2 linked regions of the Homo sapiens genome follow. The protein of the gene in region 1 purifies or fractionates together with the protein of each later gene. This does not show direct contact. Each region holds a gene or a part of one and is shown on either strand. Other genes may lie near its edges.

Evidence for each region. Proteins that work in one complex are often made in the same cells at the same time.
Region 2: the proteins of CST1 (region 1) and CTSH purify together in Homo sapiens (affinity purification with mass spectrometry; 2 studies listed by BioGRID and IntAct, with this or other methods). This does not show direct contact.

Annotation. Positions count from the first base shown.
Region 1 is NC_000020.11:23,748,136-23,752,158, forward strand, and holds the start of CST1 (cystatin-SN precursor), read right to left. Parts: upstream 2,801-4,023; 5' UTR 2,732-2,800; coding exon 2,504-2,731; intron 995-2,503; coding exon 881-994; intron 1-880. UniProt on the Homo sapiens protein: Human saliva appears to contain several cysteine proteinase inhibitors that are immunologically related to cystatin S but that differ in their specificity due to amino acid sequence differences.
Region 2 is NC_000015.10:78,924,547-78,928,046, forward strand, and holds part of CTSH (pro-cathepsin H isoform a preproprotein), read right to left. Parts: intron 3,236-3,500; coding exon 3,167-3,235; intron 895-3,166; coding exon 788-894; intron 1-787. UniProt on the Homo sapiens protein: Important for the overall degradation of proteins in lysosomes.

The DNA.
Region 1 (4,023 bases):
GTCCCAGCACAGCCCTGTGAGGAGTAGCCTGGGCAAGGCCTCGGGAGCCCCAAGGGTGCAGGGCATGGGGAGGCAGCTCAGTTCCCCCAGCTCCTTCCACCTCCAGCACCCAGGCCAGCACTAAGAGGGGCCAGAGGGAAGAACCCAGGGCAGGGCAACTCCCCCTCAAAGAGCTGGGGCATGGGGCAAGGGCAACAAGGGGAGTGTGGCTCTCCCCTGAGTGGAGACCTCACAAGAACCAGCAGGTCCTTGGAGAGGCTGGTGTTGGGTGAGCCGGGCAGGTCCAGGGCTTCCCAGCTAACAGGCCTCTAGGTCCCACTAATCTGATCACTGTGGCTGTGGCTGCATGCAGGTGCCTGAGGCTGGGATTAGACAGAGCCCCTTCTCCCTGCCCAGCACACAGCCGCACAGCTGCTTCTTCCTGTCCAACAGGCAACACTCCAAAGCAGGCAGAATTGACCTTATAGTAACCATTCCCAACCTAAAGCCTTCCTAGCAAATCAAACACATCACCCTCCTCCCTCACCACCCCATCTGCACATACATGGACAACTACGTAAACTCACTTGGACCCCTCATCCCCATGGATCTATGTACAAAGCCCCATACACCCCCCACACATCCATGCACAGGCACACATGCTCCCATCCACCTCCCTGCACACACTGGCACAGGTGTGTACACACGTGCACCTTTCCACATGCACACCTACATGCACACCCCCCCATAAGTACATGAACACGTACACATCCATGCATACACGGCTCCCCACATACCCACCTGCACACACACACCCTCCAAACATGTGTAGGGCAGAGGCTGACACATACGCACCCCTCTGCAGTGCATGACTGGCCCGGGACCTGCATCAGGAACGTACCTTCTGCAGTTCTGGCTGTTCATGGAAGGCACAGGTGTCCAAGTTGGGCTGGGACTTGGTACATATGGTGCGGCCCACCTCTACGTCGAAGAAGTAATTCACCCCCCCAACGGTCTGCACACAGGAGAAAACAGGACAGCGCCCCCATCAGTTCATGCACTCACAGGCACTTCACTGTGGCTGAGTCACTGGACTTGCTTGGGGGCTTCGTGAGCTGCCCACATGTCAACACAAGGCACACAAGCCCCCTCTTCCTGTCAACTGGCAGGGTGCTGAGCCTCATACCCGCTCTTAAACATTGCTTTCTCTGTGCTGGGTAAAAGGATTCATTGAATTCTGCTGTCTGTGGCTCAGGGGCGAGGGAACACTGACTCTTTTCTAGGAAGTCTGTCTGATGACAAAATTTCACCTAACTTCTGAAAATCTTATTCCCTCCATTTAACATAGATTTATTACTTCACTCAGAGTAGGAAATGAGATGCTTCACACACACAGATATTTTGGATCAATGGGGCCGCCCGGATGCCACCATTTCAAGTGTGAGATTCAAGATACATTTCTCAAGTCAGCAGCACACCTGCGTGTCTTACAGTTGCAGATTAGAATTGAACCCTTTCCCTGCATAGGGCCTTTCCCAGACACAATGTGGCAGAGCTGTGGAGAAACCTGGGATGAGGGACTCTCTGGAACCAGGAGGAACTGCTGAGATCCCTCGAGTGTCAGTTTACCCATGTCTAAAATAGGCTTCTGGGCCTGATGGTCTGCAATGCCCTGTGCTTCACTCCAAGTTACTGTCATGCTTGAAAGGGAGATGCAGGCCAGCGGGGACCACGGCACCAGGGAGTGTATCTCGTATGCAGGGAGAGAGCCCCAGCTGACAGCTGCAAGAGGAGAAACGGGGCTGGTGGGGATTCCTTTGAATTTCCAGGAGAAGGTGGAGGAGCTCTAAAGACTGTGTCACTATTTGCTGCTGTGCCATGGGATGCAGGTCAAGCTGGGCCCAGTTGCCCTGCTGAAGCTCCCTCCCGACCTGACCCCTCCTCTGCTCTGCTGGGTGACCACTGTCCTCATCTGGCTGAGGTCTAACTGCATCAGCTGGTAGAGGCAGGGTCAGGCATGCTCCACCCCAGCAGGGACTCAGCGCCCTGGGCTGTAGGGGTTTGTCAGCCGGCCTGAGGGTGAAGGCCGCTAGCCATAAGGGGCTGTGCCCAGGGGCGTGACTTGGGGAAGCAGGGCTCTGCAGAACAGTGAGCCAGGTTCCTGTGTGGCCCCTGCAGAGAGGACTCAGGGAGGAGTATGAACCTCATGGCCTGGATCTCATCCTGAGCAGCATCAAGCCCACCCAGAGTAAGCACAGTCTCCATCCACACCTGCTGGACCCTGGGAAATGCCACAGTCATGGTACAGACACAGTGGCTGCTGCAGGTTAAAGGAAGCTGAGTTTGTGCACGGCCGGGGAGCGTGCTTAGGCATGAAGGGCATCAGCGGAGAGCCAGGGAAAGCTGAATGAATCTGAGCATTAGATCATGAATGTATCAGTGTTGATTTGCTGGGAATGCTCTTGGGGGTTGGGGAACAAACCAGGCTGGGACCCAGGACCCCTGGGGTGGAGGGAGCACCTACCTGTTGCCTGGCTCTTAGTACCCGCAGCGGACGTCTGTAGTAGTCATCTTTGGTGGCCTTGTTATACTCGCTGATGGCGAAGTGAAGGGCACGCTGTACCCACTCATCATTGAGGTCTGCGTTATAGATGCCACCCGGGATTATCCTATCCTCCTCCTTGGGGCTCCAGGCCAGGGCCACAGCTAGGGTGGCCAGCAGGAGCAGCAGGGTACTCAGATACTGGGCCATGGTCTCCTCAGAGGCAGAGCACAAAGCTGGAGCTGCAGGAGAGGAGGGTGAGAGCCCGAGGCAGGGAGCCCAGACCAGCAGGCAGGTGTGCATTTATCCTGCTTTGGCAGCCCAGCCCCACCCACCTCCATGCCCCACCCCTGACTCCTCCTCCTCTTTCTTCCCATCCCCTCTTTCTCCATCTCTCTTTTCACTCCCCCGCTACTACAAGCTCCCTCCCTGCCTAAGTTCCCCCTGCCCCTCCCAGGCCTCCTCCTCCATCTCCCCCTCCTCCCCACTCCAGTCCTCACTGCAGCCTCCCCGAGCCATGCCTCTCTTCCCCAGTGCTCCCAAGCTTGAGTCACCCAGGTCTCCACAGAGGTGACACTGGTCCTTTGACTGTGAAAGCTATGTGACTTCCTGTTTGCTCAGAAAGGGGAAAAATACAGGGCTTGGCCTCCCAGGGTCTTCAGATATCAGGGGCATCCAGGAGCACTTGGTCACAGTCTCTGAATCTCTGGAACAGGGAGATTATTTCAGAAAGTTCCAGAAGACCCTGTCCATACCCTAATGTGGAGAATTTCTTTGCCAAATTTAAGGGAATTAACCTTTTTGGAAAAGGTCACTGGATTCTCTTTTCATAATTCATTATTCAATAAGCAAACCTATCACCAGCTACTCCCCGTGCCAGGAGGTCTAGGGCTTGAAGACGGAACCTGGATGATGAGCCATAGAGGTGACATTGCAGAGCTGCTGCCCAACAGACATGTGACACGAACTCACGAGCAATTGAAAATTTCTAGTAGATGCATTTTAAAAGATGAGAATAAATGGGTGAAAGTAATGTTTAAAATATTTATTTAACCTTATATAGCCACAATGTGATTTCAGCTAATGGGAACAATTATTAATGAGATCGTTTATGTTTTTTTTTTTTTTGTTTTTTTTTTTTTTGGTTTTGTAAATCTTTGAAATTCCCTGTGTATTTTTAACACTTAGACCAGAAGTAATTTTGGACTGGCCCCATTTCAAGTATCCTGTGGCACATGTGGCTGGTTCTATGGAACTCCATAGTCCATTCCTACACAATGTGTGTAGGGGATGGTAGGTTACGATCAAAAATTAGGGTCAGGGAGTTATGCTCACTCTTTTGGAAGTGAAATAGAACAGGGGCTAGAGAGAGACCACTGGACCCTGGTCAGGGTGGTCTCTATGAGACTGGAGAGGTTGAGAAGCCCCAGGCAGTGGGGAACAGCCAGTGCAAAGGCCCTGAGGTGGGGTTGGGACATGCCTGCTCCAGAAAGTGGAAGCTC
Region 2 (3,500 bases), on another chromosome or scaffold:
GTGGGTGAGAGAAACCCCATAGTAAAGAGGCTAAAGCTTGGTTTTTCTGAAGAAGCCTGGGGTGACTCCTCCAGCACAGGATCCTAGTGTGTGAGGGCAGCTACTCTTCTCCCTATTTTACGTCTTCAAATCTTTAAACATGGGTATTTTTTTTTTTTTCTGAGACAGAGCTTTGCTCTGTCACCAAGGTTGGAGTGCAGTGGCACGATCTTGGCTTAGTGCTACTTCCACCTCCTAGGTTCAAGCCATTCTTGTGTCTCAGCCTCCCGAGTAGCTGGGATTATAGGCATGCACCACCACGCTGGCTTTTTTTTTTTTTTTGTATTTTTAGTAGAGATGGGGTTTCGCCATGTTGGCCAGGCTGGTCTTGAACTCCTGGCCTCAAGTGATCCACCTGCCTCGGCCTCCCAAAGTGCTGGGAGTACAGGCATGAGCCACCACGCCTGGCCTGAACATGGGTTTTTTTTAAACTGGAGGCAACTCTTCTGTTAAGGAGCACAAAGCTCTCAAATTTTGGCCCTAGCTCTCACTAGCCAGGTGGCCTGTGTCTGTCGTATCCCTTCTGACCACCTCTCCTTTGCTGTGAGAAGAGGCCATGGCTCCTGGCCCTTGGGGCTGTGTGAGGATTAACTGAGGGATGTGCAAAACGCCCAGCACCTGGCAGGTGTCATGAAGGGTCTGACACACAGGAGTCTGGGCCACGAGCCCAAGTCCCACGAGTGGGGTGTGAGGAGGCCCACCAAGCCCCTCCCCACTGTCCCTCCTGGCTCCTGGGACCCTGACTCACCTGGAGTAGATGCCGGTTCTATACATCATGAAGTCCTGAGTCACCTCAAAGGCAAAGCTCACAGGGTTGTAGAGGGCCACAGCCTCCACCATCGCTTCCTCGTCATACTGTGGAAACAGGACCGAGACAGAAACACATGGCCTGTCACCTCCCCACTCCTTTCACAGTACAGCCTTTTGCCTCAAGCTAGGGGCTAGAGGCCCAGAGCAGCATGGATGGCCAGAAGCAGCTCCCCTGCGGCCTCTCTCCCTTCCTGTCTCTGGCTGGGTCTGTCTGGCCATCTCTCGTTCCTCTCCCCAACTCTGCTCCTAGGAAACCCTGCACCCTCTGAGATAGGGACCACGGGGTACAGCGTGGACCTACTCATTCAGTCATTCACATCCATTCCCTGAGGTCCTCTCCTGGGCCAGCAGCTCTCACCCCTACACCCATAAACCCAGAGTCTACAAAGCTTTGCTGCTAGAACACAGGGGTTATAAACCATGGACGGGTAGGTCCCAGATGGCGGTGGAAACGAGAAGACCCATCCGAGGGCTGTGTGACTTCTGAGTAGAACCTGTCCCCTCCAAGGGGGAAGGTAGGTGGGGGGAAGTCAGGGTGGCTTCCTGGAGGCTGCAGCTTTGGAACAGAGCTGCAGAGACCAGGTGACAGCAGCAGGTAGAACCCCATGCAGAACCTTAAAAAAACCCCAAGTCCAGGCTGTGCCTCAGACCAACTACAACAGTATCTGCAGGGTGGGTCCCAGGCATTGGCACTTTTTGGAGCTTCTGGGTTGGGGGTGGCTGGGTTCAAGTGCACTAACCAAGAGACCTCTGGGAGCTGAAATGAGGGGGGAAGTTACCTGTGCTGAGGCCAGGGCCCTACTGAAGGAAAGCAAGTGCAGGAGGGACGGGGCGCCCAGCCTCCCTCAGTCCTGCCTCCCTAGAGGGGTGGACAGAGACCCAGCTGTGAAAAGCAAACAGGTGCCTGGCAAGGGAGTGCCCTCCTTCCTGGTATGTGGACAAGGCCTTGTGAGCCCAACAGGTCAGGGCATATCTGAGACATGGAGGGCACAGAGGCCAGCCCAGCACAGGGGCGATGACTTCTGCAGGTGGCACCATTTCCACCCCATGGGCCTGCCCAAGAGGGCTGAATGCTAGTTCTGGCCTGGTCGTCAGGGCCCTGCAGGTGTCACCAATGAGGCTCTCCTGGGGACCATGCAAAGGGATACCTTTGAGGCCCAAATTCACCTGTCCTTGGGATATCATGGCCCAGAGCAGCCAGCTTGAGTGACAGCAGCAACATTCTGAAGAGGGTGACATCCTGAGTACAGGATTTGCGCTGTATGTTGTCAAGGCAATGAGCCCTGGTTCTGGAATGACACATTCTTAGTTCAAATCCAGCATCTATTTCCTAGCTCTGTGGCCTTGGGCACATTACTTAACCACTTGGAGCCCCCGTTTCCTCACCTGTCAAATGAGGTAATAAGGATACTCATCTCCTAGGGCCAGTTCGGGTCTAGAGGGGATAGTGCGTATTGAGGGTTGGTACAGCACCTAGAAGTACTCCATCAAGTTAAGATGTTATTGCTGAGAGCTTGGCACATGCTTCAACTAAATGGCAGCCGCTGTCATTACACAGACATCACGTTTGTGAACTGTACATACATTCGTGGGCGCACACACAACCTAAGCGATATTCCTCCACTCCTCACACACCCTCCCACACTTGCATGCATGCACACTGCAGTCACGAAGGCGTTCATTCACGTTCCAGTTCTCTCTGGGAGAAGCAGGGTAAGACCACACTTCCCTATTCACTTGAGGTCAACTGTGACTGGGCGGCTTGTTTTGGCTTTAGAGCTAGGGCATCATTTACCACCTTCTTTCCCTCTAGTCCTGGCGTGAGGCCAATGACACGGAGCACACACCACCCTCCCTAAGCTGTGCATGGGCGCAGGAGTGCCACACACCCTTTGACTGTTGTCAGCCATGCAGATTGGGCACGGTTGTTATTGCAACAGAACCTGGCTCATCCTGAGTGACACACACTCACCCTCCTCAGTTTCACACACGCTGTGTCAAGCACGTGCTCATACCCTCTTCTGCAGGATGCGGACAATTGCTTGCATTTTACAAGCAAGAAAACAGAACCAAAAGAATGAAGGCATGTGTGGATCTGGAGTTCAGAACCAGAGGGCCTGCCTGCCAGTTTGCGCTCTCCCTCCCATCTCCTGCCTCGCCACCATCACAGCGACTGAGACCCAGGGATAATATGAACTCGTCAAAGGGATGTGCTGCCAGAAGGGCTGCCTTGCTGGGCCCACTGGCTATCCGACAGCATGAGAGAGGCCTCCTCATCAGGACACATTCCCCATCCCAGAGGGGGATCGGCACTCACGATTGTGATGTTGGCTACATCCTTGACAAAGCCGATGGCCTTTCCAGGTTGGAACTTGCAATAACCATCCTGTTGAGGATGCAAAGGGCATGAAATACAGGTTATGGACCCGAAGTCTCAGCCTCCCCACGCAGTTCAATAACATTTACTAAACAAAACAAGATGTGCCAGGGCCTGGGGGATGGGATAATTTCAGAGAGAATTAAAGCATCCTTGTCCTCAAGGAGCTTAGGGTCTGGTAGCAGATGGTCCTGTGCTGGCTTTGGCAGAGGTGGGCACACATGGTGTGTGGTGGGAGCCTGAGGAGGGGCCTCACCCGGCCTGAGGAAACTCA